Homo sapiens: one gene and its partners. The protein of the gene in region 2 purifies or fractionates together with the protein of the main gene of each other region. This does not show direct contact. Each region holds a gene or a part of one and is shown on either strand. Other genes may lie near its edges.

What was found.
Region 1: the proteins of SARAF (region 2) and ANXA8 purify together in Homo sapiens (affinity purification with mass spectrometry; one large-scale study listed by BioGRID and IntAct). This does not show direct contact.
Region 3: the proteins of SARAF (region 2) and ITIH2 purify together in Homo sapiens (affinity purification with mass spectrometry; one large-scale study listed by BioGRID and IntAct). This does not show direct contact.
Region 4: the proteins of SARAF (region 2) and ACP7 purify together in Homo sapiens (affinity purification with mass spectrometry; one large-scale study listed by BioGRID and IntAct). This does not show direct contact.
Region 5: the proteins of SARAF (region 2) and MRAP2 purify together in Homo sapiens (co-immunoprecipitation; one large-scale study listed by IntAct). This does not show direct contact.
Region 6: the proteins of SARAF (region 2) and SERPINA9 purify together in Homo sapiens (affinity purification with mass spectrometry; one large-scale study listed by BioGRID and IntAct). This does not show direct contact.
Region 7: the proteins of SARAF (region 2) and IDH2 purify together in Homo sapiens (affinity purification with mass spectrometry; one large-scale study listed by BioGRID and IntAct). This does not show direct contact.

The regions. Positions count from the first base shown.
Region 1 is NC_000010.11:47,477,616-47,481,115, forward strand, and holds part of ANXA8 (annexin A8), read right to left. Parts: intron 2,274-3,500; coding exon 2,183-2,273; intron 1,127-2,182; coding exon of another isoform or gene 1,013-1,126; coding exon 918-1,012; exon of another isoform or gene 1-917. UniProt on the Homo sapiens protein: This protein is an anticoagulant protein that acts as an indirect inhibitor of the thromboplastin-specific complex, which is involved in the blood coagulation cascade.
Region 2 is NC_000008.11:30,066,065-30,069,564, forward strand, and holds part of SARAF (store-operated calcium entry-associated regulatory factor isoform 1 precursor), read right to left. Parts: intron 855-3,500; coding exon 713-854; intron 76-712; coding exon 1-75. UniProt on the Homo sapiens protein: Negative regulator of store-operated Ca(2+) entry (SOCE) involved in protecting cells from Ca(2+) overfilling.
Region 3 is NC_000010.11:7,744,816-7,748,315, reverse strand, and holds part of ITIH2 (inter-alpha-trypsin inhibitor heavy chain H2 precursor), read right to left. Parts: coding exon 3,353-3,500; intron 1,724-3,352; coding exon 1,612-1,723; intron 1-1,611. UniProt on the Homo sapiens protein: May act as a carrier of hyaluronan in serum or as a binding protein between hyaluronan and other matrix protein, including those on cell surfaces in tissues to regulate the localization, synthesis and degradation of hyaluronan which are essential to cells undergoing biological processes.
Region 4 is NC_000019.10:39,108,368-39,111,993, reverse strand, and holds the end of ACP7 (acid phosphatase type 7 isoform 1 precursor), read right to left. Parts: intron 1,942-3,626; coding exon 1,876-1,941; 3' UTR 501-1,875; downstream 1-500.
Region 5 is NC_000006.12:84,036,772-84,040,271, reverse strand, and holds part of MRAP2 (melanocortin-2 receptor accessory protein 2), read right to left. Parts: intron 1-3,500. UniProt on the Homo sapiens protein: Modulator of melanocortin receptor 4 (MC4R), a receptor involved in energy homeostasis. Plays a central role in the control of energy homeostasis and body weight regulation by increasing ligand-sensitivity of MC4R and MC4R-mediated generation of cAMP.
Region 6 is NC_000014.9:94,462,221-94,466,197, forward strand, and holds the end of SERPINA9 (serpin A9 isoform A precursor), read right to left. Parts: intron 2,635-3,977; coding exon 2,487-2,634; intron 1,077-2,486; coding exon 873-1,076; 3' UTR 501-872; downstream 1-500. UniProt on the Homo sapiens protein: Protease inhibitor that inhibits trypsin and trypsin-like serine proteases (in vitro). Inhibits plasmin and thrombin with lower efficiency (in vitro).
Region 7 is NC_000015.10:90,082,545-90,085,468, reverse strand, and holds the end of IDH2 (isocitrate dehydrogenase [NADP], mitochondrial isoform 1 precursor), read left to right. Parts: intron 1-81; coding exon 82-194; intron 195-370; coding exon 371-468; intron 469-560; coding exon 561-653; intron 654-1,115; coding exon 1,116-1,203; 3' UTR 1,204-2,424; downstream 2,425-2,924. UniProt on the Homo sapiens protein: Plays a role in intermediary metabolism and energy production. It may tightly associate or interact with the pyruvate dehydrogenase complex.

The DNA of each region.
Region 1 (3,500 bases), on a different chromosome or scaffold from region 2:
ACATGTTGCTACGAGGAGCCACCAGGCTACATCAGCTGATCTACAGAGCAGCAGAGAGATCAAGGGCTTTGTCAGACCTGGATTTTAATCCCCACCTTGTTGATTACAGGCTCTGGGACCTTGGGCAACTTAAAACCTCTCTGAGTGCCAGTTTCCCCAAATGTTTGAATACAAAGAATGTATCACTGTGAGGACTAAGAGAGGGAAACTGTAAAAATGCATACTGGGTTCTCCAAGAGAATATTTGAGCTGATCTTCCTTCGTTACATCTCCAAACTAATGATATGAGTCACTAGAGGCTTGAGGCAACCATGGCTGTGCACATATTTAATCCTGTGTTTACTGTGTACCCCCAAATGTCAGGCTTTGTCCTAGGGGTGGAGTGCAGGTGGGAGGAGAAACAAAGGGCCTGGCATGCTTACTCCAGGCTCTTAGAATTCCCAGGTGGCAGAAGGGACGAGGTGTGGGTGCAAGCAGCTCGACTGAGGAAAGCATGCCCACGCCCCAGAACAGAGCAAAGCCAGGCCTGCATGCCTGGGGCATGGAAAAGAGAAGGTGGTCTGGGCTCAGAGGGCAGGGCGAGATAGCCTGGGGGCAGGGAGACAGACCTCCAGTGGGGCCTGTTGGGTGCATGAGAAGGAATGCTGTGAGAGAGGAGGCAGGAAAGGAAGCAAGGAAGGCCAGCCCCCGGCCCGGGCTCTGACACCTAAAAGTAGATCTGCCAGATAAAACACAGGGCAGCCAGTTACATTTGAATTTCAATAAAGAACAATTGTTTTCATGCAAACATGTTCCATGTGCCCATGCTGCCAGTGGGCTGGCTCTAGGGGAAAGTCGTCCAGAATGGAGCTGCCTCCCAGGCTGTACCCCCAACCCCAAGGCTCACCTATCCCCACCCCCACCAGCCTTCCCCTTGCCTTGCCGAACTGAGCCTTGAAGGACTTGGCGATCTGCTGCCGCTGCGTGTTGCTTCTCTTGGTGAGCACATCGATGATAGCCTGCTCGTTGGTCCCTGCAGGGTTACAGCACAAGTGACCCTGCTGCCCCCAGGGTGACACACTGGTGAGGGCGGAGGAGGGGAAGGCGAAGGCAGCTGCTTGGTGGCTGAGCAGTTGGGACCCGACACCTGGATAGTTCCAAACCCCCAGACCATTTTCGTGGTGTAAACAAGACCCTTAGGAAATCTGCCTCCCCATTTCCCACCCCACACCCCCACAATGTTGGGGCGTGCCCAAGGCCAGCCTCACAAGATGGAATCTGAGGTCTGGGTGGCTCTGGACATCAGCCCGGGCCTTTGGAGCTTGGCCGAGTGAGATCTCTGGCCCTGCCCTCCTTTGTGTTGGTCGCAGTAGGGGAAGGTCAAGACTAAGAGTCCAACCCCTGAATCCGAGGCCTGGCCCAGCAACTGCGTGGCATTGGGCAGCCAGCCTCATTTCCCTGGGCCTCCGTTTTCTCATTTGGGAAGTGGAGATAACTTTCTGCTTCACAGAAAGCAGAGGGCATGAGAACGTTTTCTGGGCTTGTCAGGAGCGGCAGTTCTCATTAAGGCCCCTGATCCTCAGGCAGAGCCGGCTAAGGGGTCAGTCCCACCTGGGGTGAGGTCAGGGTACATGCTCTGCTCTCAGGTCAGGAGGGCTTTCTGGGCAAGCTGTTTAAATCTGGCCTCAGGCCAGCCCTCGCCCACTCACGGTAGTGCTGAGGGCAGCACTGGGCAAGTGCAGGAGATGGGAAGGGAGCCGGCTCCATGGCCATCGACATGGGGCAAGGGGGCCTTGAATCAGCCCCACAAACTCCCAACACCTCACACCCCTGGCAGCTCTGTGCCTGGCATCATAAAGCACCACCCCCTTCACACTTCATGTGACACACAAGGCCAAGAATTCTTGGGGCCACTTTACAAGTGAGAAAGCTGAGACTGATGGGAAGTCACTCACAGAGACACACAGCTCACCTCCCCACCCCCATTACCCAGGGAAGAGCAGCACCCTCCTGTCCAGTCTTGCAGGGTGGGTGCTGACCTCACTGCAGAAACAGAGGGCTGTGTGATTCTCTGGGTAGTGGAATCAGTTTCAGAGTATCATGGGACACCCCAGCTCCCCAGATGTCCCCTGGCACCCGCTTTCCAGGGCTGTGAGCGGAGGGGTCTTGAGCAGAGGTGGCAAGGCTGCCAACACCCACTCACCGATCCCCTTCATGGCTTTGTAGAGGGTCTCTGCATCAGGGTCTGGGTTGAAGTGGGAGCTGCTCTTCACTGTGACACCCTCCTGTTCAATCTGCAAGAGAACCAGGCCTGCTCAAAGCAGGCAGGGACAGGGAGGGCAGAGCAGGCTCCCAGCCCATCTGGTAGCCCGCCCTGACAGGGTGAGCCCCTTCCCTGGGCACGGAGATCTGCTCAGCCCTTGCAGGCCAGTGCTCTGCCCTTCAGCCCCTTGGCCAACAGGGTGGAGTAGCCAGAGCCAGAGCTTGTGGGGAGAAGCCACAAAACCTTTCCTGTCCCTGTCTGTGCCATCTGACTGCAGACAGCAGCCCCAGCCACACCCAGCTCCTTCCAGCATCACCCACCAGCAGCAGGAAGGGACAAACTCACCCAAAGTTAGGAGGGGAAAGAACACTGAAGCAAAGGCTTCCTGGAGCTGCATGCACCACCTTCAGAGTGTGCAGATGAGGTTGGAAGGCTGAGCATGGTTCTGCCTTTCTGAGGAATGGTTTGAGCTCAGTCTGCCCTCTTCCTGGGGAGTTGGGACTTACAGCAACTTAGAGGGCAGGGGCCCAGCTGAGCATATTGATAGTTCAGGGTGTTTGCAAGTCCACAGGCCCATGGGGCTCAGAGCGTCAGGTTTAGAAAAACCCGCACGATGCTCTGCAGATTGTGAAATAAACCAGATAACCAAGTGCCTGAGCCCTTGATTTCCAAGCCTCCAGTTCAGGGCTTGCCTGAAGGCTCTTTAAACTTGTGCCCTGCAGAATTTCTCAGATGATTAACATGGACATAAGTGTGTTTTGGGTGGAGGAATGGTAGAGAATGGAGGGATATTGGAGATAGGTATTGAATTAGAGGGAGACTCAGAGATCCTCCAGGATGAAAAAGAGTTTAGTCCCATCCAGTCTTGTCTTCCATTTACCTGTTCACTTATTCCTTCCATCACCTCCATCATCTGCCCATCTACTTTCCCACCTACGCACTTACCCATTTGACTACCACATCCATCCATCCATCCACCCACCCATCCATCTATGCACCCGCCCATCCATCCATCCATCCATCCATCCATCCATCCATCCATCCATCCATCGAAGCCCTGGGTTAGATTGTGAAAATACAGAGATTCCAATGGATGGTATATCTGTAAGTATCTTTCCTTTGAGTAAGAGGTAAGGCATCTTTCTGAACTCTTTGCTTTAATTTCAAATGTCTGGTGACAGATCTTCCTGAGTCATTTCTTAGCACCATGTTTCACAGCAGAAATTGTTAGAAATAATTCCTATGGAAATTCCATCCA
Region 2 (3,500 bases):
GCCCTATTCCACGTGCCAGGGTAGGAGGGAGGATAGGACGGGTAGTACCACGAGTCTGAGAAGGGTGTTGCCGCTCTTTAAAGGGATAAAAGTAGGTTAGGCATTTTTTTCTTGTGGCTATAATTTTTAAATACCTTCCTGTTCCTAAACTGTCAGAAAAAAATATCTTTATCAAGTATTTTTTCCTGAATGTTCTGGTATATCAGAGTTAACATGAAATAAAAACCGTTTCATATTTCTGCCATTATTATGGTCACTGCTATGGGGGAAAAGTGACAGGGAGTCAATGCTCTTTCTGAATTTGCACTCGAATAAAATCTAAACTTAAACTACCATTAATACTTCATATTCCAAAATCTGGCCCCAAGCTCTTTCCAGCCTTATTTTTATCATTCTCCTACCAAACCAGACTGTTCCCCAAATGCTGTCTTCTTTCCTGCCTTCTTATTTTCTCAGATGTCAACTAAACAGTCTTTTTCTTATCTCATAATATATATGAAGGTGACACAGGAAGAAACACAGTGAAAGAAAATAACATACACAATACTGATCAAAACAAATATAGTGTACCTTCCCCCTTCCCAGAGAATCTTATTTAATAGGCTAACGTCACCACAATTTATTTTCCTTAGCAAAACTAAATGCAGTTAAATTGTAAGCAAAACAAGCCTCTTGAATTAAAGAGCAAGTGAGATCAATGCAAAAAGCTTACCTATTGCTGCCAAACAAATATCCTAGTATTCCACCAGTTCCCAAGCCTGTCCAGAACCCTGGTCCTGAATTTTCATATCCTTGTTGTCCTGTAAAAGCACTGCCAAAACCAGAAGTTGCACCATGGCCAGTATTCTGTGGTCCTTAAAATAAAAATGATTTATTATGTATCCTCACTTAAACATGACAGTCTACAAAAGCAAAGATAATGTAACATTTCAATTATTTCATCTGTACTGAATTATTAATAATACTCAGGCATCAAGTTATTAACAAGTTGTATTCAAAAAGGTATTTGTAAAATACTGGTTTATAATGAGGGAGAGCATTTCCCATAGATATGGGAGGAGAGGGATAGATTTTGGGACTGGGGAGGGTCTTGCTATAAAATGACATCTGCCCTGCTCAATCAGCTACTAGAAAATCACCCCACTTTTCAGGGTTACTTTCTCTCTGCAGTACAAACTCTAAGTGGAGTCTCTAAGAGCTCCAGATGAGAGCTGTGCCTCAGTCTCTAACCGAGGAATCCAAGGGGAGGCAGCCAGATATTTATTTGTGTCAGTTGGGAAGTCAGATCTCAAAGGGACCTAAAAAGTATCTTCTGCTCAGAGGAAGTTTTAACTGATGTATACATATATATAAGAAAGTGTGCTAATCTTACACGTGTGGCACAACAAATTTGTACATATGTACCTATCCATGTAACCACCACCCACACCAATAAACCATTTCTGGCACCCCAGAAGGCTCCCTCATGACAACTCCTAATAGATTCCCATCTATGTCAGAGATCAGCACTACTTTAACTTCTCTTACCATATTTTAATTCTGTCCATTCATGAACTTTTTCTAAACAGGATCACAAAGTATGTATTCTGTGTCCGGCACATCATTATGTCTATGGGAGTCAATCCTACCATTGCATTATCAGTTTTTTTCTTAACTCATGTGTCTTCCACCGTGTGAAAAATTTACACAGTCCCATTCTAATGTTTATGGATATTCCACCTCCATTTTTTGGCAGTTATAAATAAAACTGCTATGAACATTCCTGTGCATCTTTCTTGGTGCACCATGCATTCACTTCTCCCAGGTATGTACATAGGAATAGAATTGGGTATGCATGTTTGGGTTGTTTTACCATTTAAACTCCTACCGGCAAAGTATGAAAGTTCCAGTCACTCTACATTCTTGCCCATACTTGGTACTCTGTCTTTTTAATGTTAGCCATTATGGTGGTTATCTGGTGGCTAAAAATAATCTCCCTGTGGTTTTCATCTGCATTTCTCAGGAGACTAATGATGCTAAGCACCTTTTCTTATTTCTGTTGAACATGTAAATCATGGGTTGGGACCCCAGTACTGCTCCACGGCCTGTTAGGAACTGAGCCACACAGCAGGAGGTGAACAGCAAGCAAGCGACTGAAGCTTCATCTCTATTTAAAGCCACTCCCCCATCACTTGCATTACTACCTGAGCTCAGCCTCCTGTCAGATCAGCAGCAGCATTAGATTCTCATAGGAGCACAAACCCTACTGTGAACTGCACATGCGAGGGATCTAGGTTGCATGCTCCTTATGAGAATCTAATGCCTGATGATCTGTCACTGTGTCCCATCACCCCCAGATGGGACCATCCAGTTGCAGGAAAACAAGCTCAGGGCTCCCACTGATTCTACATTACATGAGTTGTTAATTATTTCATTATATATTACAATGTAATAACAACATAAATAAAGTACACAATAAATGTAATATGCTTTAATCATCCCAAAACCTTCTCTCCCCACCCCACCCCACCCCAACCCCCCTAGTCCGTGGAAAAATTGTCTTCCACAAAGCTGGTCCCTGGTGCCAAAAAGGCTGGGGACTGGTGAAGTAGATGTCTTCTCTTATTATAAAATGGGCATTCAAGTCCTCTTTGGAGGGCCTGTCTGCCTGTTGCTCAGATTTACAGGAGTTCATTTTATGTTCTACCGGAAATACATTTTATATATATATATGCCGGAAATACGTTTCGTAAATTTTTCCCAGTCTGTAGCTTGCCTTTTCACTCTCCTAATAGTGCCTTTTGATGATTAGATGTTCTTAATTTAAATAAAGTCTAATTTACCCATGTTTTCTTTTATGGCTAGTACTTTTTATGTTCTGTTTAAGAAATCTTTCCCTATCCTAAGGTCATAACAAATATTCTCCTATGTTTTATTCTGGAAACTTAATTGTTTTACCTTTTACGTTGAGATTTATAATACTTAAAGAATTAATTTTTATGTATAGTGTGAGACAGGAGTCAGGGCAAATGATTATTAGCAAAGTTGATCAAGTTTCTCTGATTAAGAGTATTTATAATTTAATCAGGCATTTTTTTTTTTTTTTTTTTTTTGGAGACAGGGTCTCGCTCTGTCACTCAGGCTGGAGTGCAGTGGCGCAATCTCGGCTCACCGCAACCTCCACCTCCCGGGTTCAAGTGATTCTCATGCCTCAGTCTCCCAAGCAGCTGGAATCACAGGTGCCCGCCACAACACCCGGCTAATTTTTGTATTTTTAGTAAGAACGGCGTTTTACCATCTTGGCCAGGCTGGTCTCAAACTCCCAACCTCAAGTGATCTGCCCACCCCGGCCTCCCAAAGTGCTGGGATTACAGGCGTGAGCCACCGCGCCCGGCCAATCAGGCATTAACATAGCAACCACAATATACCTTGGGAGAGAGCCAAACAGAAGAGGTAAAAGAAGTTGAAAGTAAAAAACAAAATGAGAAGACAAACCTCCTTTGGTTTCCCAATGCAACGAT
Region 3 (3,500 bases), on a different chromosome or scaffold from region 2:
TGCTTGCAGTGGACCAAATCGAGGCCCAGCATTTACTTTTTGTCATTATAGTAAATATATATATATATGTATACATATATTTATTTATATATGTATATATAAATATATATACATATTTTATGAGATGGAGTCAGGCTGGAGTGCAGTGGTGCTATCTCTGCTCACTGCAACCTCTGCCTTCCGGGTTCAAGTGATTATCCTACCTCAGCCTCCCGAGTAGCTGGGAATACAGGCGCCCGCCACCACACCCGGCTAATTTTTGTATTTTTAGTAGAGATGGGGGGGGTTTCAACATGTTGGCAAGTTGGTCTTGAACTCCTGACCTCAGGTTATCCACCCACCCAGGCCTTGCAAAGTGCTGGGATTACAGGCGTGAGCCACTGCGCCTGGCCTATTTATATATTATGTATTTATTTATGAGACAGGTCTCTCTCTGTTACCCAAGCTGGAGTGCAGAGGCACAATCATAAGTCACTTCATCCTCGAACTCCTGGGTTCAACGGATCCTCCCACCTCAGCCTCCTGAGTAGCTGGGGCTATAGGCAGAATCTACTACACCTGGATAATTATTTTTATATTTATTTTTATTTTTGTAGAGATGGAGTCTTACTATGTTGCCCAGGCTGGTCTTGAACTCCTGGTCTCAGGTGATCCTCCCACATTGGCCTCTCAAAGCATTGGGATTACAGGCATGAGCCACCATGCCTGGCAGTAAATGCCCTTCTACCAACTTCAGATAACTTACTATTAACATTAATAATTTGTGCTCACCATTGCTTCTGTGACACATGCTCACTGATTCCCGTCGGTACCTCATTCCTCCCATAAACTGATACTAATTGAATGGCATATTCACTAAGAATCCATTGTTTCAGTTCACAAATCTACTTTCGTGGCAATACTTCCGACTACAATTTTATGTTACAATGTTATGGTTTAATTAAGTATGTCAAAGCCAATGACATTTGTGGGCGTGAAGAATCCTTTCTAATAAAGCAAAGTTGGCTGCTTTGTAAAAACTCTAAAAAGGGGTAAGCTGCTTTAAAACGGTATCAAATTTGGCATGGGTGAGACAACTGTAAAGGACTGGGAAAAAATATCAAGATTTGTAAGACTTTTACACTCAGAATGCGTTATGAGCGTCTAAGTTCTCACTTCAGATGAAGCATATGGGGGTGGTTTGTGTAAGAAAAGCTACAAAAAAAGCAGTCAGAGATCCCTGTGCAAAAGGAAAACTCTAGCCTGATGTAAAAATCTACATTCATTCTGCAGCACTATGGTAATAGGTGTTTTATGATTCTCTCCTTTGATCAACGTGTCTGGTTATCCAACTTGTGAAGCTCTTGTGAGGGCTTCTAAAGTATGAAGATGAGAACAACAGGTTAGTTAATCTTGGCATTGCATGACCCTAGATACCCAGTCATTATTTGCATTTAACGTGGGATATCAGAAGTGTCCTTATGCGAATGCTGTGTGCGTCTATTCCTAATGAACTGCTTAGTGTGATGTAGGTAGTGCCTACGACACTTCTTCTTTGCTCCTCTATTTTGCTGTGTGGGTCTAATTCTAACACAAGGCCTTTTCGTCACTGTCCTTACGCCCGAGGCCTACCTGGTGATGATCAGCTTCTGCCCCTTCACTTCCATGCTGGCCTCTGGCTTCTCAGGGTCCTTTCCTGGTCTCTCATTGAAGATGTGTATCTTTGGTTCCTGCATGAACTGGCCTAGCAAAACAGAATCAGACATTGATTGACATGTAATCATAGTTAAATAAAAAGAGGCTCATTATTGACTCCATGCTACCTTTCGGTCCTCCCTCCAGGATTTCTAGGGTGGAAAGACAAGCTGAGAGGAAAAAGGAGTGGTGATGGGAGGGAGGGTCCTTCCTGGGAGCACATTTGTGCTGCTCACCATCTTTTTTTTATTTTTATTTTTTTAATTTGAGGCAGGATCTCCCTCTGTTGCCCAGGCTGGAGTGCAGTGGTGCTATCTCGGCTCACTGCAACCTCCACCTCCTGGGCTCAAGTGTTCTTCCCACCTCAGCCTCCCAAGTAGCTGGGACCACAGGCGTGAGCCACTACGCCTGGCTAATTTTTTGTAGAGACAGGGTTTCACCGTGTTGCACAGGTTGATCTTGAACTCCTGGACTCAAGCGATCCACCCACCTCAGCCTCCCAAAGTGCTGGGATTACAGGTGTGAGCCACTACTCACAGCCTTTTTTTTTTTTTTTTTTTTTTTTTTTTTTTTAAATTTAAGATTTGGGGCCGGGTGTGGTGGCTCACACCTGTAATCCCAGCACTTTGGGAGGCCGAGGTGGGCAGATCACCTGAGGTTGGGAGTTTGAGACCAGCCTGACCAACATGGAGAAACCCCATCTCTACTAAAAATACAAAATTAGCTGGGCGTGGTGGTGCATGCCTGTAATCCCAGCTACTCGGGAGGCTGAGGGAAGAGAATCGCATGAACCGGGGAGGCAGCGGTTGCGGTGAGCCGAGATTGCGCCACTGCGCTCCAGCCTGGGCAACAAGAGAGAAACTCCATCTCATAAATTAATGAATTAATTAATTTAAGAGATGGAGTCTCCCTCTGTCACCCAGGCTGGAGCACAGTGGCACAGTCATAGCTCACTGCAGCCTCCAATTCCGGGGCTCAAGAGATCCCACCTCAGCTTCCTGAGTAGCTGGGACTCCAGGCAGGCTCCACCATACCCTGCTAATTATTTTTATTTTCTAATTTTTTGGTAGAGATGGGGTGCCCAGGCTGCCCTTGAACTCCACAAGCAAATCCACCTGCCCAGGCCTCCTAAAGTGCTGGGATTACAGGCACGAGCCACCATGCCTGGAGCTCATGGTCATTTTATACATGAGGTTGGTCTAGTGGATTGTAAGTAAATCGAGCACCCTGATGGCAGGAGAATGAGGTGAGCACCTGAGAGTATAGCTCAGATCACAGGAAAAAGTTTTGTTTGTGATGTCACAGGCTTTATATTTGAGCCCTTCTTAAAATACTAGGGACATTTGTCCAGAGTGTTCTGCTTGTTATCACAGACCTCCTAAATGGGTTCATCTTGCTTCAGTTAGAAAAAAATCTTTAACATAAAACTTAAAATGTATCTGTCCCTTCTCTTAACTTGCCCAGTTTGTGATGCTGAAATCCTGGCCCTGGACAACCTTGTCTGGAATGGCAAAAGGTCCTGGCTGTCACATTCCCGAGCGACCCCACACTGCTATGTTAGTCCTCTGTGCTCATGAGTCCACACCTGCCATGTCCTCAACTTGTAACCACTGTCAACCAAAGCTGCTAAAGAATTAGAGCGGCCCCACCCTTGTCAGATGGTCAATAGACACTTTACCTATTAGTCCGTGGGCTTTAGGTGAGAACTTGTTTGTAGGGGGTATGTAGATTCCCAGAAAGTCAACATTGACGGGATGCTTCTTCCAAACACGATGAAGTAAAACAGAAAAGGACATCTCTTTATCCAGGGTGATAGTTACCACTTT
Region 4 (3,626 bases), on a different chromosome or scaffold from region 2:
GAGGGGACACCGAGTCTGAGACCTGAGGTTGAGAAGGCGCCAGCCTGGGATGAGCTGGGGAGAGGGCACACAGGGGGCAGACAGCCAGCGCCCAGGCCCCGCAGTGAGAAAGAGCTGGCTGTGTTCCAGGAACGGCAAGGAGTCCTGCGTGCCTTGGGCCAAGTGAGGGGCGGGTGGGAGGGAATGAAATCTGTGGAGGCAGAAACCGCGCCCCATGACGGGGGAATAGATAGATCTCAGGTCATCTGGCAGGGCTGGGAGCCCGCAGGCCCTGGGGCAGCTGTCAGCCCTGGGGCCTTTGCCTGTGACTCGTGGAGTCCGATCACTTCCTTCACCTGCTCAGAGCCTCCCCTGGCTCCACCCAAAGTCCTCACCGTGGCCTGTAAGGCTCCATACAAGCCATCCCCACCACTGCCCTGTCCTCAAGCTTGGTCTCCCTCTCACTCTCCCTGCTCCAGCCACAGTGGCCTCCTCGTGGACACTCCAACAGGGCAGGCACGTTTCTTTGTTTATTTTTCTCTTTTTAAAACTTTTTTATTTATATATATTTTTTGAGACAGGGTCTTGCTCTGTTGCCCAGGCTGGGGTGCAGTGGCGCAATCATGGCTCACTGCAGCCTCAACCTCCTGGGCTCAAGCCATCCTCCCGCCTCAGCCTCCTGAGCAGCTGGGACTACAGGCACACACCACCATGCCCAGCTAAATTTCATATTTTTGGTAGAGAAAGGGTTTCGCTGTGTTGCCCAGGCTGGTCTCAAACTCCTGGGCTCAAGTGATCTGCCCGCCTCGGCCTCCCAAAGTGCTGGGACTACAGATGTGAGTTACTGTACCCAGCCGGCCAGGCACATTTCTGTCTCAGGGCCTTTGCACTGGCTGTTCCTCTGCCTGGAATGCTCTTCCCCCAGATGTCTGCCCACTTGGCTCCTTCCCCACCTCCTTCAGATCAAATGTTGCCCTCTCAGTGAGATCCCCCTGAAAATTGAAACTGCTCTCTCACCGTCCCTGCGTTTTCTACTCACAAATCGCTATTTAACCAACTCATTTATCGTGATTTTTGTCCAACTCTCTGGTTAGGATGTCAGCTCTGTGAGGGCCGAGATCTCTGTCTCATTCACAGCTGTCTCTCCAGCACTGAGAACAGAGCCTGGCACATGGTAGATGCTCAATAAATTATGATTCAATAAATAAAAGAAGGGAAAGAAAGGAAGGAAAGAGGGAAGGAACTGGCAAGTCTGTGGCTCTTGCGGTTTGTCATCTGTCCTAGCTAGGAGGCAAGAGTGTTAACACGTCTCCTCTTCCCGAATAAGATGGTGCCAGGCTGGGAAACTGAGGCATGAAGGGACTCTTCATAGCAGTCCTGGAGCAGTGAAGAAGGAGCCAGGCTTCAGACCAACTCTCAGTGCCGGGCTCAGAAGAAAAAGCCCCTGACGCCACCTGCTGGTGAGTAGTGTCATGACGGTTGTGCCCACCTGGCGATGCCCTTGCCAGGTGGGCAGGAGAGGAGGAAGCCCAGCGGCATCCCCCGCAGATGTGCAGAATCCATGGAGCCAGAGCTTAAGCCTCTTCATTCCTGAAGCCCCGTGGGCACCTCGCCCGATCAGAGCTATGCAGGAGGGTGGGGCCCTGCCAGCAGAAACCTGCCGTGTGTCACTCTGTGCCCGCACACCTGCCCTCCCTCCACAGCCAGCCAGGACTCCCACCTCTCCAGGAGGGAACAGCTGCCCCAGCTCCATAGGGCTGCATGTACCCTACATGGGGCCTCTGGAGGGCAGGGGAGTCAGGGCCCACCCAACTCCCCACCCAGGCCTGGGCAGTTTCTGGTCACAGCAGCCAAGGCGGCAAAACCTAGGCTTCTGGAGGAGAGCTGCCGCCATCCCTAGAGGTACATCCTCCGGCCAAACAGGGGTCTCACCACCCAGACATCATCTACGATCTTCCCATCCTGTGAGGGACAAAAACAGGGACAGTAGTTAGAGCTGAAAGCCTGAACTCTGGGGCCACATGGCCTGGGTTCCAGTCCCCTCTCTGCCCTCTGATGGGCTGTACAACCCTGAGCAAGTGGCTAGGCCTCTCTGGGCCTCAGTTTTCCTCATCTGAAAAGTGATAGGAAGAGTAACAGTACCCACATCATAGATGTTGTGGGAGTTAAATGAGATAGTATTTGTAAACAGAGCCCAGCATATGGAAAGGGCTATGTAAGTGTAGGCTATTATTAGAGCACAAACTCTGGAGTCAGACAGACCTTGCTTTATATTCCAGCACATCCACTCTTTCTCTCTCTCTCCTTTTTTTTTTTTTTTTTTTTTTTTAGACAGAGTCTTGCTCTGTCACCCAGGCTGGAGTGCAGTGGCAACCTCCGCTTCCCAGGTTCAAGCCATTCTCCTGCCCCAGCCTCCCAAGTAGCTGGGATTACAGGCATGCACCACCATGCCTGGCTAATTTTTGTATTTTTACTAGAGACAAGGTTTCACCATGTTGGCCAGGCTGGTCTCGAACTCCTGACCTCAAGTGATCCGCCTGCCTCAGCCTCCCAAAGGCATGAGCTGCTGCACCTGGCCAGCGCATCCACCCTCTAGGTGGCCTTAAGCATGTTGCTGGACTCTCTGAGCAAAACTTCCATGTTCTATGCAATGCACAAAGTAATAGATGCCCAGAGTCATCATGAGAACAGAGTGAGATCATGCACACAAAAGTCTGCGCCCGGTGCATGTGCCACTCGATAAATGGTAGCTATCAGATCCCAGCTTGGCCGTCCTCCAACTGTGTGACCCTGGGAAAATTACTTCCCCTCTCTGAGCCTCAGTTCCCTCACCTATAAAATGGAGAGGAAATCCACTCCTGTGGGATTGTTTTGGTGTATAAAGTGCTACTGGGGCCGCATGCGGTGGCTCATGCCTGTAATCCCAGCACTTTGGGAGGCCCAGGTGGGTGGATCACCTGAGGTCAGGAGTTCAAGACCAGCCTGGCTAACATGGTGAAACCCCATCTCTACTAAAAATACAAAAAATTAGCCGGGTGTGGTGGCATGTGCCTGTAATCCCAGCTACTCGGGAGGCTGAGGCAGGAGAATTGCTTGAACCTGGGAGGTGGAGGTTGCAGTGAGCTTAGATTGCACCACTGCACTCTAGCCTGGGCGACAGGGTGAAACTCTGTCTCAAAAACAAATAAATAAATAAAGTGCTACTAAATGCAGAGCATCTAGGCAGTGCCTGGTATGCAGTAGGTGCTCAATAAATCATAAATATTGTCATTATTTTAAAACTACAATGGCAAAAATAAAGAAAGGTGAGCCATTATTATTTGGATCCACCTAACCTTAAGCCACCTGTACCACATACTCATCTTATTGTTTTCCCCTACCTGTGTCCCACCCCCCATCTTTATCTTCCCCTGCCTCACAATGGTAAATACCTACAGAATTTACCAAGTTCCGCACTCTTCTAAGCATTTTATATATAATAAGTCCTTCAACCCCCATGTAGTCCTGTGAGGTGGAAACTATGATTATCCCCTCTCACAGATGGGAAAACTGAGGCAAAGAAGTTAGATAAGTGGGCCCAGCACAGTGGCTCACACCTGTAATCCCAGCACTTTGGGAGGTTGAGGCAGGCAGATCACCTGATGTCA
Region 5 (3,500 bases), on a different chromosome or scaffold from region 2:
GGCCTCAGGAAACTTACAATCATGGCAGAAGGGGAAGCAAACACATCCTTCTTTACATAGCGGCAGCAAGGAGAAGTCAGAGTGAAGAGAGGGAAAGCCTCTTATGAAACCATCAGTCTCATGAAAACTCATGAAGGCAACCAACCCCCTGATTCAATTACCTCCCAGTGGGTCCCTCCCACGACACATGGGGATTATGGGAATTCAGTTCAAGATGAGATTTAGGCGGGGACACAGCCAAATCATATCACACTGGTAGGAATATGGTGTAGGTTTTATATTAGATAGTTGATCTTAAATTTGTTTCTTTCTCTCTCGTTTCTTTTTTTCCCCACAGAAGATAGAATTATATTTCCTGAAATAATCTATACAAAGGTTTGTAGAAAGACAGAAAACGTTTACAACCACATTCTCTCACTCAGCTCCTAATTTTTCTCTCTTGTTAAACCAGGCAACTTCAAAACTAATCCTTAAGAAGCCCCTCCCTCAGCCTGCTCTGCCTTCCAGTGATTGTTATTTTTGCTATTACCAAGAACATGCAAGAGGAAAACAAATGCACCTTGCAGGAGAATTATTTGAAGCTTACAAACTATTTTCACTTGAAGGGTTATGAAATTTTACTAACGTTCTCTAGTGAGGCAAAAATTACACAGGTCTTGATAACAGAAACACGAGCAACAATTAAACTCAGATTTTAACATATATAATTTTAGCATCTCATAAAGCTAGTCTCAACTTCTGCTTTTTTACTTCATATCTCAACAATACTATAAGGGACTGCAGAATCATGATTGCAAGGAAAATGCACAGTTTCCACCTCTCCAATAGGACTAAGCACTTCTCATACTCCAGTCAAGCAAAAAAATCACTTTGTACCCTGACATGAAGCAAAAATAACATGATCATCCTGCCTGAAAGTTGGTCTCCAAAATAAAACTTCAAACACATCTCATTCCCTTAAAGAAATAATTTTTTCCCTTGATTGTTTGCTATGCTGATGTCTGAAAACAAGTCACGACTTTTAGGAATAGATAATTGTGTAAGAAAGTTGTTTTTAGTCATGAACAACAGACTAATGTAAATGGAGAACTTTGGTAATTTGGTGGAATATTTTCTTTCAAGTATTTATTGTGATTTTATTTGATGAGCCAGTCTTATAAAGCCTGACTCCCTTGCACTCTGGGGAAGTAAACATTTTCTTTCCTTTTCTAACTGCTTCTGCCTCTAAGTCTTCCTTTGTCAAAAGTAAATGTAACAATAAACACAGATTGCTACTCTACTTAATTTTAACCCAAGCATATGTTACCTACTCTGAGCTAGCACAACTTGTGGGGCCTGCTCAAATGTCAACTGTATTTTGGTTTTCTATTGCGCCTCAAAATACACTCAAGGGATTCATCTTCCCTGCCCTCAAACAAATACTTGAGTAGATCCCATGATGTTTCTGCTCATGCAACAACTTCAAAGTCCCAAAAGAGGCCAGTCACAGTGGCTCACAATTGTAATCCTAGCACTTTGGGATGTGGAGGCAGGAGGATCACTTGAGCCCAGGAATGCAAGACCAGCCTGGGCAACATAGCAAAACCACGTCTCTACAAAAAAAGTTTTTTTAATTAGCTGGGCATGGTGTTCTGTGCCTGTAGTCCCAGCTACTTGAGAGACTGAGATGGGAGGATCACTTAAGCCCAAGAGGTTGAGGCTGCAGTGAGCTGTGATCATGCCACTGCACTCCAGCCTGGGCAACAGACAGAGTGAGACTTTGTCTCAAATGAATAAATAAATAAATAAGAAATATAAAAACCTAAAAGAATTAAAATGTCTAATCTTTGGAAACAAAAGAAACTCTGACCCATTATAACACAAATCTGCCCTATTTCTGCAATGTCCTGCTGCATGCTGGTCTCCTGCTGGGGTTGGGGGAAGGTAAACTTCTTTTCTATTTCTCCACCATCCACTCAACTGCTAGCTAGTTTCACATCACTCCAAGACCAAAGCAGGAGGAAAGGACTGAATTAACTATCTTCATACCTCACATGGGTGTGTTAGTAATACTCACCTTCCTTCAGCTGGCTGCTCATTCCTACTTCTGCTGCCAGGGGCCCTCGCCCTTAGGCCAGCCCTTCCTCCCATGTGGCCCCACCTGGCTCCCAGATCATCTTCAGACATCCTTTGCCCAACAAACTCTGGGAAGGTGAGTGATCCAGCCACCTAGGCCCCTGTGTGAGCCCCAAATGCAAGAAGCACATGGACAGCTCAACTCACCCTCAAATGGCCCCACTGAGAGGTGACAACATGCTAGCAGCCCTCGCTCACTCTCAGCACCTCCTCAGCAGTGTCTGCTCCGGCCATGCTTGAGGAGTCCTTCAGCACACCGCTGCACTGTGGGAGCCCCTCTCTGGGCTGGCCGAGGCTGGAGCTGGCTCCCTCTGCTTGCGGGGAGGTGTGGAGGGAGAGAGAGGGGCAGGAACCCGGGCTGGCCAGCGTGAGTTCTAGGTGGGCGCAGACTCAGTGGGCCCCACCAGCCCTGGGCAGTGAGGGGCTTAGCACCCAGGCCAGCAGCTGCAGAGGGGGCGCCAGGTCCCCCAGCACTGCCAGCCTGCCTGCGCCGCACTCAAATTCTCACCGGGCCTCAGCCGCCTCCCTGTGGGGCAGAGCTCAGGACCTGCAGCCCGCCATGCCAGAGCCCAGCCCCCCACCCCGTGGTGGGCTCCCGCACTGCCCGAGCCTCCCCAACGGGCGCCGCCCCCTGCTCCATGGCGCCTGGTCCCATCAACCGCCCAAGGGCTGAGGAGTGCAGGCTTGTGGCATGGGACTGGTGGGCAGCTCCGCCCATGGCCCTGGCGTGGGATCCACTAGGCAAAGCCAGCTGGGCTCCTGAATCAGGTGGGGACTTGGAGAACTTTTATGTCTAGTTGGAGGATTGTATATGCACCAATCAGCACTCTGTGTCTAGCTCGGGGTTCGTGGATGCACCAATCAGCACTCTGTATCTAGCTAATCTGGTGGGGACTTGGAGAACTTTTATGTCTAGCTAAAGGATTGTAAACACACCAGTCAGCACTCTGTGTCTAGCTCAAGGTTTGTAATCACACCAATCAACACTCTGTGTCTAGCTCAAGGTTTGTAAACGCAACAATCAGTGCTCTGTGTCTAGCTAATCTAGTGGGGACTTAGAGAACTTTTATGTCTAGCTGGAGGATTGTAAATACACCAATCAGCACTCTTTGTCTAGCTCGGGGTTCTTGGATGCACCAATCAGCCCTCTGTGTCTAGCTCAAGGTTTGTAAATGCACCAATCAGCACCCTGTGTCTAGCTCAAAGTTTGTAAATGCACCAATCAGTGCTCTGTGTCTAGTTAATCTAGTGGGGACTTGGAGAACTTTTTTGTCTAGCTGGAGGATTGTAAATACACCAATCAGCACTCTGTGTCTAGCTCAGGGATTGTAAATGCACTAATCAGCACCCTGTCAAAACGGACCAATCAGCTCTCTGTGAAACAG
Region 6 (3,977 bases), on a different chromosome or scaffold from region 2:
CCCTCGTCAGCCGGTGTCCCGGCGCTCCCCACAAACCCAGACTCTCTCCTTGGCTAACAATGGCCTCCACCAGCCGACCTCTTTGAGCCTCTGTGTTCTCATTTCTTCCATCTGCCACACATGATGCCACAAGGTCCCTGCTCTGTCTCTCCAACATGCCACTCATTCCTGACTCACAGCCTTCATGCTCACACCCCTCCCTTGTCCTATCCTCACTCTCAGTCATCCTGTTCAATGCCTTCATGGCACTTATCATAAGCTCTTACGATCATGTTTATAGGTCTGGTTTCATTGTTGCTGTAGGGGGGTCTGTCTCCCCCATTTAGGCCTAACAGGCCAGGAATCTTGTCTGTCTGATTTACTCCTAACATATGTTAAGTGTTCAATAAATTTTTGCTGAATAAATGAAGGAAAAAAATCATGCAGCCTCTGAGATGTCATGGGATGACAGCCCAGCCATCGCGAGTTCGCTAGTAAATCATTTTCAGATTAGGACTCTGTTGACAGATGAATTCATATTTTAGTTTTATTGAATGTGTTATTGTAATTCTGCAATAGAGGTGCCTAACCTGGGTTGGCGTATTTCCATTCCTGGGAGCCCCAAGGAATGGAAATATGGTAACCCAGCAACATCCCATGAAGCTAGTTACCTGGGAGAATTTGTGGAAAAGGGCACTGACTGGGGTTAATGGGTGTTGGCTTGTGACTGGGGTCCCTGTTGATGGTTTGGTGATTGAGCCTTGGAAGTGGCATCCCTGCCAGCGAATCCAGCTCCACTGGGGTCAAATGCACCCTCAGAACAGAAAGAGGGATGTGGTTTGTTATTTCTTGTGCATTAGCAATGTGCCATCAGTTAACAGGCCATTTCCCACCTAGGATTTAGTGGGATTTTCCACTTTCCCTAGAAAGAGAATACCGTCTGTGGCTTTATTTGTAATCATCATCAGGAAGGTCCTATTGAAGGAGACAGTGAAGTAAGAGGGGCCATCCTTCGATCGGACTATGAACTTGGTGGTGGTAGCTGCTGTGGCCTCAGTGCCCTCTTCACTGACATCCAGCACAGCCTTGTGGGTTGCCTGCCAAGGGAAAAACAAACATCAGTGGCCCTAGTGGAGACACTTTTACTTAACTGAGTAAACTAAACTGAGTGCTTTTGCCCTGGAATGGTGATGTCTACCTTGAAAGGATTCAAGGTTCAAATGCCTGGCATTGGGTTTACTCAATACATTGCAGTGGGTGTTGACTATGGCCCATTGGTCCTTACACCGGGATTGAGATGGTTACAAACACAGAGCAGGAAGACCGGAGTGAGTCTCAGTTCTGCCACTTATGGTTGCAAAATTATTAAGATGCTGCGTGCTTCAGGTTCCCGATCTATAAAAGGTAATAATAACTGCATATGCCCCGTAAGGTTATTGTGTAAATTAAGAGAGATCATACAAAGCAAGTGCTTGTGGACTTGCCAGCAGTAGTAATTGCTGCAGTTCTTGCATGGCAGACATGGGTTTGATATGACTAAGGTTAGATCCCTTCTTTGTCTTCTAGGGAAGAGATTCTTAACCTGGAGTTCCTGGATTTCTAAGCTTCAGGGAGGCTTGAGCTCCTGTGACTACAGGCATTATTTTTCATAGGCTCACAGATACACTTTCCTCGAGAAAATGTCCATTATGTTCATCATATTCCAGTGGGGCCTCTCAACATTTTCTGAAAACCAATGACAAAGGTCCCCTTCAGTGGCCCCAGGATCACTTCTATTATAATCCACTATCAAAATAAAATTTTAGGTCAGGGATCAGTAACCCATATGTGTGCAGGGGCTAGGCAGGTAACCCCAATTAACTGACGGAGACTTCTTGTAAGAGCATGGGGTGCCCACATTACCTGGAGGATACTGTCTGGTTAAAAGGGGCACTCATAGCTCAGCTCCTGTGATGGCTGCCATGTGGACACATAGGCTCACTGTTGCCATGTGGGAATTAGAGTTAGTGATTTATTTCAAGAGGATCAGAAATCTAGACTTTTAGATCTAATATACTATGCTTTAAAACTCCTCTCTCTCTCTCTCTCTCTCTCTCTCTCTCTCTCTCTCTCTCTCTCTCCTTACACACTGAAGGCCAGACAACACATCTACAGGGTGCAGATGACCTATGGGCAGCCACACTGTGATGCCTGTGTGAGGGCCTAAACTTCAGGGAGGAAGAAAGTGAGGTCAGATCCTGAGGGAGCACTTGCTCTCCTGCAGCAGGCATGGGGGAGCACCTGACTGCTGAGGATGGCTTCGGAACATTTGTGTGAAGAGGGATAACAGATGCTGCATGCCAGAGGGATGGTGGCCATAGGCCGCAAGATTCGGTTCTTCTGGCCGCAGAAGACCCTGACTTCACCTTTCAGGCCTCTGTTTCCTTATCAACGAAATAAGAGCATGTGATTAATTCTGCAGGTGCTTCCAGCTTGGACTTTTTTGCAAATATTTTCATTCAACTCACTTTAGAAACCTGCAGGGAGTCTCTCTTTGCAATTCCAGAAAAATCAGCATTTTTGTCAAAGACATTTTGGATGCCCATCTTCGGGAGGATGGTTTCCAGATTGTAGGAGGCAGAAATGGAAAATCTGGGGATGAACACCTCTATCCACCTGTGGAGTAGGGAAAAGGAAACAATGAGGTCACAAGCCCATGGTGTCTGCATCTCTGCTCCTAGATGCCATTTTGGGAGACTCCGTTCTTCCTCCAACCACTGCTAATTTCTGCTAAAAAGGTCAACACATCCTAGCCAAGAAACCCAGGTTGCTCTTGAAATAAGCCTCCCAGCTGAGCAGGTCCAGCACTAAAAACATGCAAGGAGATAGACGAGCCCCCAGTGAAGTGGGTGCAGAGGTGAAAAAGCAGTCAGCAAGGGAGTCTATGGCAGAAACCAACAGGAGACGTCCAGTAGCAATGGAAGCTCATCAACCACCCACTCACTGTCCGGAATACCTCCTCAGCAGCACTTCCTGATGCAAGCCCTGCTAATAATGCCCTAGAGCAGCAAAGTCCAGCAGAACTTCCTGTGATGCTGGGAAGATCCTAGACCTGCACTCTCCAGTACGGTAGCCATTAGCCATGTGTGGCTACTGAGCAACTTAAACAGTGGCTTGTGCAAATGAGAAACTAAAATGTTAATTTTACTACATTTCAGTTAACTTAAGTGTAAATTACTGCAGGTGGCTTAGCGGCTACTATATTGAACAGCACCACCTGATAATTTAGCACAATATTTTTTTTCCTCTGCAATGGTTTCCCTGAACCAAGAGTAAACAGCCCACATGTGTTGAACTTCTTTTTTTTAAGATGGAGTCTCACTCTGTCGCTCAGGCTGGAGTGCAATGGCACAGTCTCTGCTCACTGCAACCTCCACCCCGTGGGTTCAAGTGTTTCTCCTGCCTCAGCCTCCCAAGTAGCTGGGATTACAGGTGTACGTGGCCATGCCCGGCTAATTTTTTTGTATTTTAGTAGAGACAGGGTTTCACCGTGTTGCCCAGGCTGGTCTTGAACTCCTGAGCTCAGGCAATCCACCCGCCTCGGCTTCCCAAAGTGCTAGGATTACAGGCGTGAGTCCAGCCTGAACATTTATTATATGCCAGACATTGTCCCAGGCACATTCAACAACACTTCCCCCTTTTAAAGACGGTAAAGCTTACTTTTAGTGCTTTGCCCAAGGTTATGTACTTAGTGACTCACAGCAACGAAAGCACAAAAATATTGGATGGACACATTTCAGTCCTCATCTGACAGGTGTCTTGTGACCCCTCATGCCAGGGACAGCTCTCTTTTCCCTGCCACTGTCCTCTTTCCCTGTTTTCTCTGTGCTCCATCTGCTGCTCTGTACTCTGTCCCTCCCTCCCTGAAATTCTGTGCCACCTCCTCTTCCTATCCCCAGCCCCAGATGCAGCCTGAGAAGAGAAGAAATCGCTGACACACCCTGCAGCATCTCTTCATC
Region 7 (2,924 bases), on a different chromosome or scaffold from region 2:
TGGGTTGTAGAGGGCAGCAGGGCTCAGCTGGGTGGCCCCAGGAGAGGCGAGGCCCTGAGAGAAAGGCTTTCTACCCTCCAGGCTTTGGCTCCCTTGGCCTGATGACGTCCGTCCTGGTCTGCCCTGATGGGAAGACGATTGAGGCTGAGGCCGCTCATGGGACCGTCACCCGCCACTATCGGGAGCACCAGAAGGTGAGTGCAGGGCATGGGGCCTCACAATGCCCCTCTACCCCAGGGGCCTAAAGCCCACTGGGCTGAGGGCTGGAAGGACGAGCCTGACCCACCAGCCCAGGGGCGGGCAGCTGTATCTGGGCAGCCTCCTCACTAGCTGGCTCGGCTCTTGATCTCCCTGCAACCCCCGTCCCCAGGGCCGGCCCACCAGCACCAACCCCATCGCCAGCATCTTTGCCTGGACACGTGGCCTGGAGCACCGGGGGAAGCTGGATGGGAACCAAGACCTCATCAGGTGAGCATGGAGGGAGAGGCCGGAGCTGCCCAGGACAGGCTCTGGGTCCTGCCCTTGCACAGATGGGGTCTCATTCTGCCCCATCCCCATAGGTTTGCCCAGATGCTGGAGAAGGTGTGCGTGGAGACGGTGGAGAGTGGAGCCATGACCAAGGACCTGGCGGGCTGCATTCACGGCCTCAGCAAGTGCGTGGCCTGGGGTGGTAGGCAGACCCTGGGGCCATGTGGGAGGAAGCCAGGGGACCCCTCCTAAAGTCCCCCTCATGAGTCAGCTTAGCTGCAAGGGGGCCTGGGGCAGGACATGTCCACAGCCCTGAGAGACTGCTCAGGCCAGCCTCTGTAGACCAGGTCTAGTGAGTTCCTCCCCATCCCTGAGGCTGGCTACTCAGAGCTCCTTCCGACCCTGCCCACACCCCTTTCCCAGCTTCTCTCAGGAGAGCAGTTACCTGGCAAGACAGACCCTGCGGGTGCCTGCCGAATCTCGGTGGCCTCATGGTAGGGGGCTATAGCTGGCCTCTGGCCTGTAGTCTGGGTGGCAGGAGATGGCTGTTCTGATGCCCAAGCTCAGGCTGTTCCCTGGAAGGGCCTGGCTGATGGCCTTGGCAAGGCCTGGAGCCACCCCTGATGTGAGTGGTGCTCTCTCTGCAGTGTGAAGCTGAACGAGCACTTCCTGAACACCACGGACTTCCTCGACACCATCAAGAGCAACCTGGACAGAGCCCTGGGCAGGCAGTAGGGGGAGGCGCCACCCATGGCTGCAGTGGAGGGGCCAGGGCTGAGCCGGCGGGTCCTCCTGAGCGCGGCAGAGGGTGAGCCTCACAGCCCCTCTCTGGAGGCCTTTCTAGGGGATGTTTTTTTATAAGCCAGATGTTTTTAAAAGCATATGTGTGTTTCCCCTCATGGTGACGTGAGGCAGGAGCAGTGCGTTTTACCTCAGCCAGTCAGTATGTTTTGCATACTGTAATTTATATTGCCCTTGGAACACATGGTGCCATATTTAGCTACTAAAAAGCTCTTCACAAAATTGTCTGCTGTGTTTGTCCCTGAGGGGAGGAGGTAGTGGGACCCTGAGGCAGAGGCCCTGCTAGAGCTGGCAGGTTCCCCTGGGGCAGACCAGAGCACCTCAGGAAGGGGCTGCCACGGCAGGGAAGGGACCAGGCAGCCCTGGGAGCCCGCATTCCACAGGGGCCCACTGCGGAGTTCTCGGACACTCAGGGCACAGGCCTGTGGGTTCCCTGGAATTTTCTAGCATGATCCAGTTTCTGTGTCCAGTTCTCCATTCTGAGAGTCAATCAGTTCCTGATAGGTTGTCATTGATTTTTTTCTTCGTTGGTTTTAACCTTCTAAACATCTCCAGGCCACTTTCTTAGCCTTTTTCTAGGTACTAAAAAGAGGTCCTACCCACACCTGCCTCACACTTCTCCTTTCCAAGGCTGCCTGAGTTTGGAGGGGCTTGGGTGTGTGTGAACAAGGGCCCTGCATTGTCTAGGCCTGCAGTTCCCAGGCTTGGGTTCACTTTCACCATGCATTGGCAAAACTAGAAAAGTAAGCTTGTGACAAATTGTTCTCGGCCGGGCACAGTGGCGCACGCCTATAATCCCTGTACTTTGGGAGGCTGAGGTGGGTGGATCACTTGAGGCCAGGAGTTCGAGACCAGCCTGGCCAACATGGTGAAACCCCATCTCTACTCAAAATACAAAAATTAGCCAGGCGTGGTGATGCGCACCTGCAGTCCCAGCTACTCGGGAGGCTGAGGCAGGAAAATGGCTTGAACCTGGGAGGCAGAGGTTGCAGTGAGCCGAGACTGCACCACTGCACTCCAGCCTGGGTGACAGAGCAAGACTCTGTCTCAAAAAAAAAAAAAAAAAAAAAAAAAAAAAAATTGCTCTATGCAAGTTTTTTAGCCCCATGTAAAAAGGAAAAATAAAAGTTGCTCTAAAGCTACATATAATCAAAAGGACTGTCCTCTGCATAGTAAGTTCTGCAAAGCTTCTTCTTTTTGGTGTTAAAATGTCCTGGAGAAGAGTTGTATAATCTTTATAAAGTCCTGGCCAGGTGTGGTGGCTCATGCCTATAGTCCCAGCACTTTGGGAGGCCAAGGTGGGAGGATCACTTGAGCCCGGGAGTTTGAGGCTGTAGTGAGCTATGACTGCACCACTGTACTCCAGCCTGAGTAACAGAGTGAGACCCCATCTCTCAAAACCCCATCTTACAAAGTCCCTTTCCTAAATACTGGGGGGACTCCTATGGCTCCTGAAACCCGACCATTGCGGTAGACTGAGTGGCTTTGGAAGGGCTCTAGCCCTCCATCCACACTGGTGACCCCCCGCTTGCTTTTCCTGAGTAATGCCCTGAAACTCTCAGGGCTATAAGAAGAAACGTGGACTGCTGGCTCTAGCAGGCCCAGCCCCTGGGAGGAAGCTCAAGGCTTCCTGCCTCTTCTTGCCTGTCACCAGC